3 linked regions of the Homo sapiens genome follow. The protein of the gene in region 1 purifies or fractionates together with the protein of each later gene. This does not show direct contact. Each region holds a gene or a part of one and is shown on either strand. Other genes may lie near its edges. The genes, in order: FGF3, ANKHD1-EIF4EBP3 and ZNF593.

What was found.
Region 2: the proteins of FGF3 (region 1) and ANKHD1-EIF4EBP3 purify together in Homo sapiens (affinity purification with mass spectrometry, with the first as the bait; 2 studies listed by BioGRID). This does not show direct contact.
Region 3: the proteins of FGF3 (region 1) and ZNF593 purify together in Homo sapiens (affinity purification with mass spectrometry; 2 studies listed by BioGRID and IntAct, with this or other methods). This does not show direct contact.

The regions. Positions count from the first base shown.
Region 1 is NC_000011.10:69,817,306-69,821,060, forward strand, and holds the start of FGF3 (fibroblast growth factor 3 precursor), read right to left. Parts: upstream 2,112-3,755; 5' UTR 1,629-2,111; coding exon 1,409-1,628; exon of another isoform or gene 1,403-1,408; intron 1-1,402. UniProt on the Homo sapiens protein: Plays an important role in the regulation of embryonic development, cell proliferation, and cell differentiation. Required for normal ear development.
Region 2 is NC_000005.10:140,523,833-140,527,465, reverse strand, and holds part of ANKHD1-EIF4EBP3 (ANKHD1-EIF4EBP3 protein), read right to left. Parts: intron 3,401-3,633; coding exon 3,226-3,400; intron 1,471-3,225; coding exon 1,023-1,470; intron 539-1,022; coding exon 392-538; intron 115-391; exon of another isoform or gene 38-114; intron 1-37. Other genes in the region: ANKHD1 (ankyrin repeat and KH domain-containing protein 1), read right to left, coding at 392-538, 1,023-1,470, 3,226-3,400. UniProt on the Homo sapiens protein: May play a role as a scaffolding protein that may be associated with the abnormal phenotype of leukemia cells. Isoform 2 may possess an antiapoptotic effect and protect cells during normal cell survival through its regulation of caspases.
Region 3 is NC_000001.11:26,168,406-26,171,526, reverse strand, and holds ZNF593 (zinc finger protein 593), read right to left. Parts: upstream 1,620-3,121; 5' UTR 1,544-1,619; coding exon 1,344-1,543; exon of another isoform or gene 1,110-1,343; coding exon 1,047-1,109; exon of another isoform or gene 953-1,046; coding exon 811-952; 3' UTR 654-810; downstream 1-653. Other genes in the region: transmembrane protein ZNF593OS, read left to right, coding at 192-338; uncharacterized protein C1orf232, read left to right, coding at 3,028-3,111. UniProt on the Homo sapiens protein: Involved in pre-60S ribosomal particles maturation by promoting the nuclear export of the 60S ribosome. Negatively modulates the DNA binding activity of Oct-2 and therefore its transcriptional regulatory activity.

The sequences.
Region 1 (3,755 bases):
ACCGGGCTTTTGCTCCAGCCCAGGGGTGCTGTGGTGCAGGCTGCGAGCCTCCCGCCTTCCCAGTGCGCAGGCTGGGCGGCATCGGCGGTGCCTGACCGGGGACCAGCGAAGCACGAGTCTCGACGCAGGACAGGGGCGGCTGCGGGCGCGCGCCCTCCCCTCCCCGTGAGCAGCCTACACCAAGAAGTTTGGATGCTGTGCGACTCCGAGGGGGAGCCTGGCTTTGGAGAGAACCGGAGTGTCTTAGTGAGACGAATTCCGCGCACTCGGACCCCCTGGTGACAGCTGGTGCCCACCGTGCGGCTCCGGAGGCGCATGTCCCCAGGACGCCCTCTCAGGGCTGCGGCTTTCCTGGAGGAAGCCGCGGTTTGCTGAGGCCGCCGCCGCCACCTTCAAGCGGCGGAACCGCTTCCTGCGCCCGGGGCCGGAGCCGAGCGCCGCGCGGAGCACCCGAGGACAGCTGTGGTCTTGACTGCCCTCCCACGCTCCCCACGCGGTCCTCCCGGGCCCTGAGCTCCGCTATCCTGCTCCTCAAAGGGCTCGGCGCGGGCCTCAGGTCCCTGTGACCAGAGGAGCCCAACCGTGTAGTCCGGCAGACTCCCGCGGTGAGCGCAGCCCGGGCCGCGGGTCCTGCGTGCGGGGGCCGGAGTGTGTGTGTCTGCACCCCCAGGCCCGGGCGGACACCGTTCCGCGCTCGTGATCCGCACGTCCCGACGGCGAGGGCCTCCACCCTCCTGTCGCTGTGCGGCCAGGGCGGAGGCGGGGGAGGTGCAGATTCCAGCGCGGGGAATAACTGTCGGTGGCGGCCGCGGCCAGGGAACCGAGCTCCGCAGGGCAAGAGTCCTCCGCGCAGAGGCAGCAGCGGGGGCGGCCACCTGGGCAGCCGCGAGCGGGGAGGGCGGAGGGGACGGCGGGGCGTCCAGGGGTCGGCAGGAGGAGGAGAAGTCGTCAAAATAATAAAGAGGATGATAAATGCCTTGTCCGGCTCCTTTTCTCCGACACATTCAAAGGGCTTAAACTTGTCAGAGCTGCCCAAAGCAGCAGAGCCTGGAGCCCCGGGGTCGCCTAGCTCGCGTCCCCTCAGACCAGCGGGCCGGACCGGGGACGGACTCTGACAGCCGCCGGCGCCCTCTTCGGACGTGAACGCCCATGCCCCCGAGTTCTGCTCGAACCCCAGCGCGCGCTCTTCTCCCGGACGTGTAGGTTGAGGAGGGCACCCTGGCATTCCCCTTCTGGCAGCGGGAGGCAGACGGTCTTTTCCCGGACACCCCGGGCGCACCATGCCTTCTCCCGGGCCAGACCCCTCCCCGGCGCCGCCTCCCCCGCGGGGCCCCGCAGCGCGCCTTCTCCCGGGCCCGACCCCTCCCGGCGCCGCTTCCCCCGGGGCCCCGCAGCGTCCGGCACTCACTGTAGGCGCTGTTCTCCAGGCTGCCGTTGACGCGGCCGCTCGGGTGCAGCTGGAGGTGGTACTTCGTGGCGCAGTAGAGCTTGCGGCGCCGGGGCGCCCCGCCAAGGTGCTCGTAGACGCCGCCACGGCCGCCCGCATCGCGCCGCAACCGCGCCCCAGGGCCCGCTGCGGGCCAGCCGGGCTCCAGCAGGCTGAGCAGTAGCAGCCAGATTAGGCCCATCGTGGCATCGCGCCCGCCCCGCGGCGGCGGCGGCTGCAGGCGAGCGCGGCGCCCATGGAAGGGGCGGCAGCCGGACAGCTGCGAGGTGCTCGGAGCGGGATCCCGCGCCTGGAGATGCTGACTCCGGCTTCGCGGGAAAGGTGGGGGAAGAAGGGGGAAGGGTGGGCGAGAGAGAGAAAGAGAGGGAGAGTGGGAGAGGGAGAGGGAGAGAGGGAACGCGAGTCCCTTTAATTTCCACCCAGGAGCAATGAAATTTCCGTTGCTGCGCAAAGCGCTGAAAGAAAGGACGGTTCGCCAACAAAAGGCCGACGTGGTCCCCAGGCGGAGGCGCGGGAGGGGCGGGAGGCCGGCGGGTGGGGAGCCCCGCGGGGCTCGGGGTTCGGGCCGGGCGCCGTCTGCATACACTCGCCGCCAGCGCACCGCCGTCGAGCCGCGGCTCCGCTCCGCAGCGCGCCCCACGCCCCCGAAAGCCCTCCTGGCTCTGAAAGGTCCCCTACCCGCCCCTCCCCCGCCCCCTCCCCCAGACCAATTATGCCTCCGAAAATTATAGACCGAGGCCTTGAGGAGGCCGCCCCAGGCCCTGTCACCCCCTCCCGCTCCCCATCAATCCCCCTGCACAATGGGGCCGCCGCCGATGACTGATGTCCGTGAAAACAACTTGCGGGGAAGTCGAGCTGACAAACGCCCATTAAAGGCGGCGCATAATGAAGGGGACCGCGGAGGGCGGCGGCAGGGAGGCTCCGGGGCGCGGGCACGCGTGGGGAGCTCCGGGTTTGTGTCTGCGCCCGGCGCTTCCTGCAGGAGCAGTGGCGCTGTCCTCAGCCTTGCAAGGCGCGGGGCAGGCCGGGTCTGGAGATGCTATCTCCTTTTGCGCACACCAACTGGGCACCCGGAGTGGTGGGGTTAGCTCTCGTCTGGCAGGCCTCGGAGGATCCCGTCCCAGTGACGGTCCAGAGAGGGGCCTGGGGAGGCGGGAGGAGGGACGCGAGAGCCAGAGAAGTGGGCGCCGACAGAGAGCCCTAGAGAGAAAGAGATGCAGATAGAGACAGACAGAAACGGAGGAGGAAAGGACGGGAAAGACATGGAAAATGTGAATGACAGAGATCGCCAAAAAGAGGAGGCAGGGGAGATGGAAAGAAGACAGAGCCGCGGAGAACACCCAGAGAAAAGCACAGGGAGTCTGGTAGCCACAGCGGGTGGGTGATGACAAGAGGAACCCGGTAGAAGCTGGGAATGGGTGTGGGGGAGTCCTGGCCTGGAGGATCTGAATCAGTGCAGATGCCCAGGTGGTCCCCTGGACTGTGTGGGGGTCAAGGTGTATCTCAGGGGGCCCAGTGAAGAGGGGCTTCAAAAAGTATCGGGAAAAGCCATGTCCCCACCCATTTCTCTTGCTTCCTGGTCCTCTGTCCCCCAGGGTCCTGGGGCCAGCAGGAAGCAGGGGCCAGCACAGGGGATTTGCTTCTCTCAACCCTGCCCCAGAGGAGGGCACGCTGTGGAGTCCAGGGGTCTAGGCCACAGCTTTGGCTCCAAGTTGACCAGGGGCTCTGGGGTGAGTTGGGTGGGCTGACATTCCCCAGCCTGCCATCTGCATCAGGGTTTGGGGTCAGGCAAGTGTGCAGGGCACCATGAGCTGTGGCAGTGAGCACACACCCCTGGGACGTGTCCAGCTCCCATGGCCCAATACACACAGGGCAGTGTGTCCTCTGTGAGCCCACTCCAGCGTGCACAGGGTCCAGGTGGCCATCCTGAAGGAGGGCGCCCCCAAGCCATCCCCGAGCACCTCAGTCTTAGTCAGGGTCTCCTAGCCGCTGCCCCAGGGCCAGCTTGTGAGAGTCCTTGAACAGGCCAGAGGCCAGCCACTGAACTACTGGAGCCTCAGACTCTTGATGGAGACTGTGTTACAGGGGTCAGAGGCTGGTGACAGGAAAGCCCCAAAGGACAGCAGCAAGAGGAGAGCTTGTCCAGTGCAGCCCTGTGCAGGCCTGGGCTGGGATGTGTGGTCACCTGGGCTCCCTAAGAGGCATGGAAGAGGCACAGGAAGGAGGTCGCTGCTCTAAATGCCTTAGCTCTGCTACCTCCTGACACCTGGCCAAGAAGAGAGGAGATGTAGTGGCGGGGGTGGGGGGT
Region 2 (3,633 bases), on another chromosome or scaffold:
CAACAGCTCATACTTAGCAATAAAAAATAAAGCCTCAGGTCAATGATGAGCTGACATGTATTCTGAATCTAAAGTTGATTATTAGTACTTTAGTTCTAGAATTACTGAGACATGAGAAAGAAAAAAAGCAAGAGAAAGCCTTTACATTTGAACTACATAAAAAGCAACTGAGGTTATCCAAAAAAGCCAAAATTTCTTGTGTCATATAAAATATGCATGCAAAATTTACATACTGCTTCTAATTTTGCTTTAGCATATTCTGGATTTAGTGTGGCAATGCAGTTTAAAATAATAACCACATTCAAATTATTCATTAATTAACTAGGTAGCCATCTCACATGAGAAAGGGAAAATATATGAAAGCTAAAAAGATGGAACTAATTCTATTTACCTTCGTACAACTTCTTTCCACCCTTCTTCTCTTTTCTGACCCCTTTTAGGGCTAGTGAGATTCAGCTTTATGTTTGGAGAGCTTAATGGCAATGACACTGTCTTGTAGCTGGTTGACAAGGAATTAGGAGTCACTTCACCTTCAAGTCTAAGAAGAGACAAATAGCAAGTACAATAAAAGATAAGTTTTAAGATAGAAACTCAAGAGACTATTCCTTTATAGCCAGAGTTACGCTGAAATATTCGTATTAAACTTTGGCACATCAAATAATCAATGAGTCAGAAAAACAGAAATAGAGCAAAGAACCCATCATTTATTTTAGTATTAAAATGGATTCAGATGCCAAAAATTAGACTATAATCAATAAAAATGACATAGATAAAATCAAAGCATGCAAATATTTTCAACTTCAGACTATGAATCCTATAAAAATTTCTAATAATCTCATTTCCTAACTAGCAAATGATAAAGAGGACATGGGTGAATTTCAGTTTTGAATATTGAAGATAGATAATGTGGTAGACTTCAATTGTTTAACACAACTTGTACTTGGATTAATATACTTCAAATTCTTGTACCAGGCATGAAGAAGGAAAGGTGCAGGTAGAGTTAACAAATCAGAAAAATTTACCGTGTCTGAGTTTTGGAAGTAGCAGTACTTGTCTTTTCTTCTTGGGAATGAAGGAGCAGTGAGGGGTATTTAGAGGAATTCACATCCATCACAAAATTTAACTCTTGGCTTTTACCACCACTGCTACTCTCACTGTTGCAGTCTGTGCTGTCCAAGTTATCTGAATCACTATTCCCACCTGCACCACCACCTCTAGGTTCTCCATTTATTTTATTTTTATCTGCCTTTTGTTGGGCTAAAGACATATGTTGTTCTGGTAAAATTAAATGTGCTGTAGGAGGGGTTTCTTTTGTTTTGTTCTTCTTATTTTTCCGATTGGTGCTGGGAGTTGTCACCACATTGGCCCTTTTTTTCCCAAACACATTTGTGAATGTTGCAGATGTTGCAGAGATTCCAATCGTAGTGGTGGTGGTTGCACTAGGAGGTTCTATGGGAACTTCTTGCTCCACTGAAATTGTTAAAAAGAATAAAAATCATACTGAGTCACAGATCTCAAAACAAATTCTGACAGAATATATTTGATAATTCATAATAATTCAGTGTTTTACATCATATTTTCCTTTCACCAGTATTCACTAAGAAATAAAGAAATCTTTTTTTTTTTTTTTTAGATGGAGTCTTGCTCTGTCGCCTAGGCTGGAATGCAGTGGTGCGATATTGGCTCACTGCAACCTCTGCCTCCTGGGTAGCTGGGACTACAGGCATGTGCCACCATGCCCGGCTAATTTTTGTACTTTTAGTAGAGACAGGGTTTCACCATGTTGGCCAGGCTGATCTCAAACTCCTGACCTCAAGATCCACCCGCCTCGGCCTCCCAAAGTGCGGGATTACAGGTGTGAGCCACTGCGCCCAGCTGAAATAAAGAAATCTTTTACTGTGGCCAGGTGCAGTGGCTCATGCCTGTAATTTCAGCACTGTGGGAGGCCAAGGCAGGTGGATTGATTACTTGAGCTCAAGAGTTCAAGATCTCCTGGGCAACATGGCGAAATCTTGTCTCTACAAAAAATACAAAAATTAGCTGGGGATGGTGGTGCATACCTGTGGTCCCTGCTACTGGGGAGGCTGGGGTGGGCGGATCACCTGAACCTGGGGGGCAGAGGTTGCAGTGAGCCGAGATTGCACCACTGCACTCCAGCCTGGGTGGCAGAGGGAGACCTCATCTCAAAAAAACACACAAAAAAAATCTTTGCTCTTGTTAGCCTAATAAATATTTACTATTATTTGTTGTTAGAACAAATATAAAATATATTTTCTTGTCTAAGGTGGTATAGGACACACATACTAGCAACATTCTTAATATTCTTTTTTTTCTTTTTATTTTTTTTTTGAGACAGAGTTTTGCTCCTGTCACCCAGGCTGGAGTGCAATGGCGTGAACTCGGCTCACCACCTCCGCCTCCCAGGTTCAAGCAATTCTCCTGCCTCAGCCTCCTGAGTAGGTGGGATTATAGGCATGTGCCACCACGCCTGTAATCCCAGGCTAATTTTGTAATTTTTTTTTTTTTTTAAGTAGAGACGGGGTTTCACCATATTGGTCAGGCTGGTCTCAAACTCCTGACCTCGTGATCCGCTCTCGGCCTCCCAAAGTGCTGGGATTACAGGTGTGAGCCATTGCACCCGGCCCAATATTCTTAATATTCTTAATTCTAGTCTCATGAACCCAAACCACAATATAATTTGAATTTAGGACATTTTTCAAATAGTATTTTAGAATTAGAATCCAAGTAGAACAAAATTATTTGCCTACTACAAGCACTGCCAGACAGTACAATAAATAACTCTTTGAGAGTACTAAACCCATCTCTACTGACATTTCAGGCCTCTATATCCTTGAGCCTGAATCTCAGCTAAAAGTAAACTGAGAAATTTTACTTCTAATCAGGAGAGGAAGAGTTAGAGAAGAATCTCAAAAAAAGGTGGCAAACTTCTCACTGTATTGCTTTTAGTATATATGCAGTGTTTTACAAGGTGACTTAAATTACAACTGAATTTATTCAAATTATGCGCTTGTTTTCCCTCTTGTTTCTCTGCATTAATTTACAATGCAAAACACTTACAAATATTTACTATAAAAGTCATTGTCCATTTCAGATTAATAAAGTAATCAAATGTTTAACTAGAGTTAACTAGAGCAAAGAGCACTCAAAATGAAGTTGATAAACAAAGGAGAATTTTATCGTTAATTCAGATGGTTTGTTTCTCACCATCTTCATCATTCTCCTCTTCATCTTCATCCTCTGGTAGTTCCGAATTCTCCTTAGGTTTGTTTTCTTCATCTTCTTCCTGTTTCCTTTTCTGTTCCTCTTTTTTCTTTTTTCTCTTTTCTTTTCTTTTTTCTCTTTTAGCAGCAAGAGCCTGCTTTCTGCTCTCTTCTCTTGACTGGAAATAAAGCAGGTATATAATTTTACCAATAAGGCAGTAATGTAAAATAAAGAATGAAATGATATTTTTATGATACACAGGGATTTCCATGGATGTTACTCTCAAAACACATTTATAAATGCCAACAAGAAAAAATAAACTGGACACCATCAAAATTAAAAACTTTTATACTTCAAAGGAATCATCAAGAAAGTAAAAAATCAGCTGGGCGTGGTGGCTCACACCTATAA
Region 3 (3,121 bases), on another chromosome or scaffold:
ACGTTCCCTGCCGCCTGAGCAGGCAGGCCCAGATGGGCAGTGAGGCGAAAGGGATTGGGGTGGAATCTCCCTGGGGCAGGACCGGCGTCCATGTCTCCTTCCCCTAGCTACATCTACTCAGCCCTTTCCCACTCCCCACCTTCCTGGCAGTCTCAACTGACCCCTGAGGCACACCCTCTGTGCACCTCCAGATGCAGGTAGCTGGTGAGCTGAAGGCAGAGCCCCGGAGTCTGCTGGCAGGAGTTGTGGCTACAGTGCTAGCTGTCCTCGGCCTGGGTGGCTCCTGCTATGCCGTCTGGAAGATGGTGGGGCAGCGGCGGGTGCCACGGGCCCCGTAACGAAGAAGAGAGACTCTCACTTGGATGCTGGGGGTAGGTGACTCGGGAGGGGGGTGCAATCTCAGAAGCCTTCTTTTCTGGGGATCAGTCTCTGTCAGAAGCAGGACAGAGTAATCTGATCCCACTCCCGCCACCCCACACTGCATCAGGCCTCCATCTGGGTGCTCCAGTTCAGATGCTAGGACCTCAGAGGGAAGGCAGAGATAGACCAAGTGGGGAGTAGACACCCTAGGCCTGGTGTACAGAAAGTAGTAGAGAAGCCCTTCCAGGGCAGGAGTTTGAGACAGCGGCCTGGAAGTTAGAGTTGGAGGCAAGTTCTCTTTGTCCAGTTCCTTTATTTGGGGCAGGGCACCAAGAAGAGGCCCTCCGCTCCCCAAACCCAGAGGCAAAAGGGGTTGGCACGCTCCCTCCCAGCCTAGTCCTTGCGTCACTGTCCATGGGCAATTCCTCTGCCCTGCATCTTCAGGCCATGTCAGGTAGAGGTATCCATCTCAGGGACCTCAGTGGACACTTCCGTGGGCACTGCCAGCCGCCTGGGGGGCACATAGGATCCCATACCCGCTGCCCTCTCCGCCTCTTCCTGACTGTAGGGCTCGACGCTCAGCTGCTTCAGCCTGGGAGAAAGAAAAACAGGAGTTGGGAGCTGACCAGGTGAGAGCCCTATCTGCTGAGCACCCATCCATCAATCCTCTCCTTACTCCTTCATACCTTTTCTTGTGGTCTTTGGATCGGAAGTGGGTCTTCAGGTTGGTGGAATCGATGAAGTACCTCCTGTAGGAATGGAAGTGAGAAGGAGAGTGAGGAGGTGATAGTCTCCCAAGTGCACCTATCTCCCTAGCCCTAGCTTGTCCCTGACGCCAGGATCCGGGTCTGAGAAACGGGAGGCGGGCGGACCCACGGGTCCCAAGAGAGAAGACTCTGCGCTGCCTGGGGCTTCAACTTCACATCTCCCGGCCGGTACCGCGGACCCTCCTCCGCCCCAGGCCGGGCTCGTCCGGGACTCACGCGCAGGCCAGACAGCGGTGCAGACCGCCCCCTGGCAGGTCGGGGTCGAACTCGGCGTTTGGGTCGGGCTGGGGTCGTGCGGATCCCTGAGGCCGCAGCTCGCGGTGAATCTCATCCAAGTCCGGCCGCCGCCGCTTCGCCTTCATCTGCCGGGCTAGAGAGTGCGCTCGGTGCGCGCCTGTCCGGCGGGAGCGACCCATGGCCAGAAACAGCCCGGCCGGCCAAGGGGCCAGGAGCAGGGCAGGGAGCACACGTGTGAGCACTTCCGGGCCGATCAGCTACGTCAGGCCACGCCGGGGGGCTAGGCAGGCTCGGCCGGACCGCCTCTGATGACGTCACTCTCGGCCAGCGGCTCGAGCGCCGCCAGGCGGCCGTCGACGTCAGTGACCGAGCTCAGGACGGGCTCCCAGAAGTGTGCCCACTGAAGGGCATGGCCCCGCGGGCCCTCGCTGGGGAGGCGCGGGGTGGTGCGTGCGCCTGGGGGTTTCGGGGCCGTCTTGCTGCCCTGCTCTTCCTGGCCTGGTCCAACCAGTATCAGTGCCAACCTGTACTCCTGTCATCCCTTCCTGTTTCCCAGACCTTGGACTCCGCGGTGGGGGTGGGATGCTTTATCTCTGGAAAGCACTGATAAATGTCTGTGTCATGAATAAATTAGTAAATGACTGAGAGTGAATAAGTTTGGAATCCCAGCCCCACCAGGGCTTCCCGAGATAATCTCCAGTCCCTGAAAAAGCCCTCACTTCTCCGGGCTCCCGTTATTCCCTTGAGTCTCCATCCTCTCTCTGACCCCAACCAAATCCGTGAAGGGTGTTCCTCCCCAGAGAGTGCAGTCCTCAGGCATCCAGACTCCAGAGGGATCAGTTCCTCTCACAAGTACTCATAGAAGGACCTCTCCATCTTTGCCTCCTTTCTCTAAGCCCTGGGCTCCCAGAGGTGGGCTGGCAGCAAAGGCCTAGGTGTTGCATGCTCAGAGTGGCTAGAGGGCCTTTCCCCATTCACAGGAGCCTGGTGCCTCCCAGGCTGGCCAGAGCCAACTCAGCTGGAAGGGGCCAGAGGAGCTTAGCAATAATTCAGGGGCTCCAGCTCTTTGGAGTCTGTTGCCAGGAAACAAGGAGACAGGCACGTGTATCCCTGGGGAGAGGAATCAGTTTCCAGCCCAGACAAAGGAGTGAAATGTAAGCCCAAGGTGCCCACTGGGGGCCTGCGGACCTTCCTGCTCCAGTTCATTGAGGCTAAGTAGGGACACAGGGTGGAGCCCTGCTGAGGACACAACTAGTATGACTACAGTCACAGGGGCTCCAGTGTGGGTCCCAGACCTCAGGATTTTGTGAATGGAAGAAGATTTTCCTGGAGGCATGCTAAGAGATGAACAACTCAAGTACTCCTAGGCCCAGGAAGAAAGCCTCTCTAGAGACAAATGACTTCATTATTCTTGGCCAATATGGGTCAAGACAAGGGGCTAAGGTGGCAGAAGCTTGTTCCATCCCCCACTCCCCGACTCCTTTGGATCAGGTTCACCTCCTGGGCACTGTGCCAGCTGGGGAGGCTGGTGCATCTTTAATGAAGTCACTGGATCCCTCGGACAGGCTCTTGGCCTCACCAAGTTCCTAGAGCCAGACTCACTGGTATCCACTGAGCCACCACCTTCCTGTGCTTGCGTGCCAGGCCCCTTCCCCCTGCAGCCATGAACCAGGCCTTCTGGAAAACCTACAAGTCCAAAGTGCTACAGACCCTGAGTGGGGAATCTGAAGAAGACCTGGCAGAGGAGGTGGGTGCCA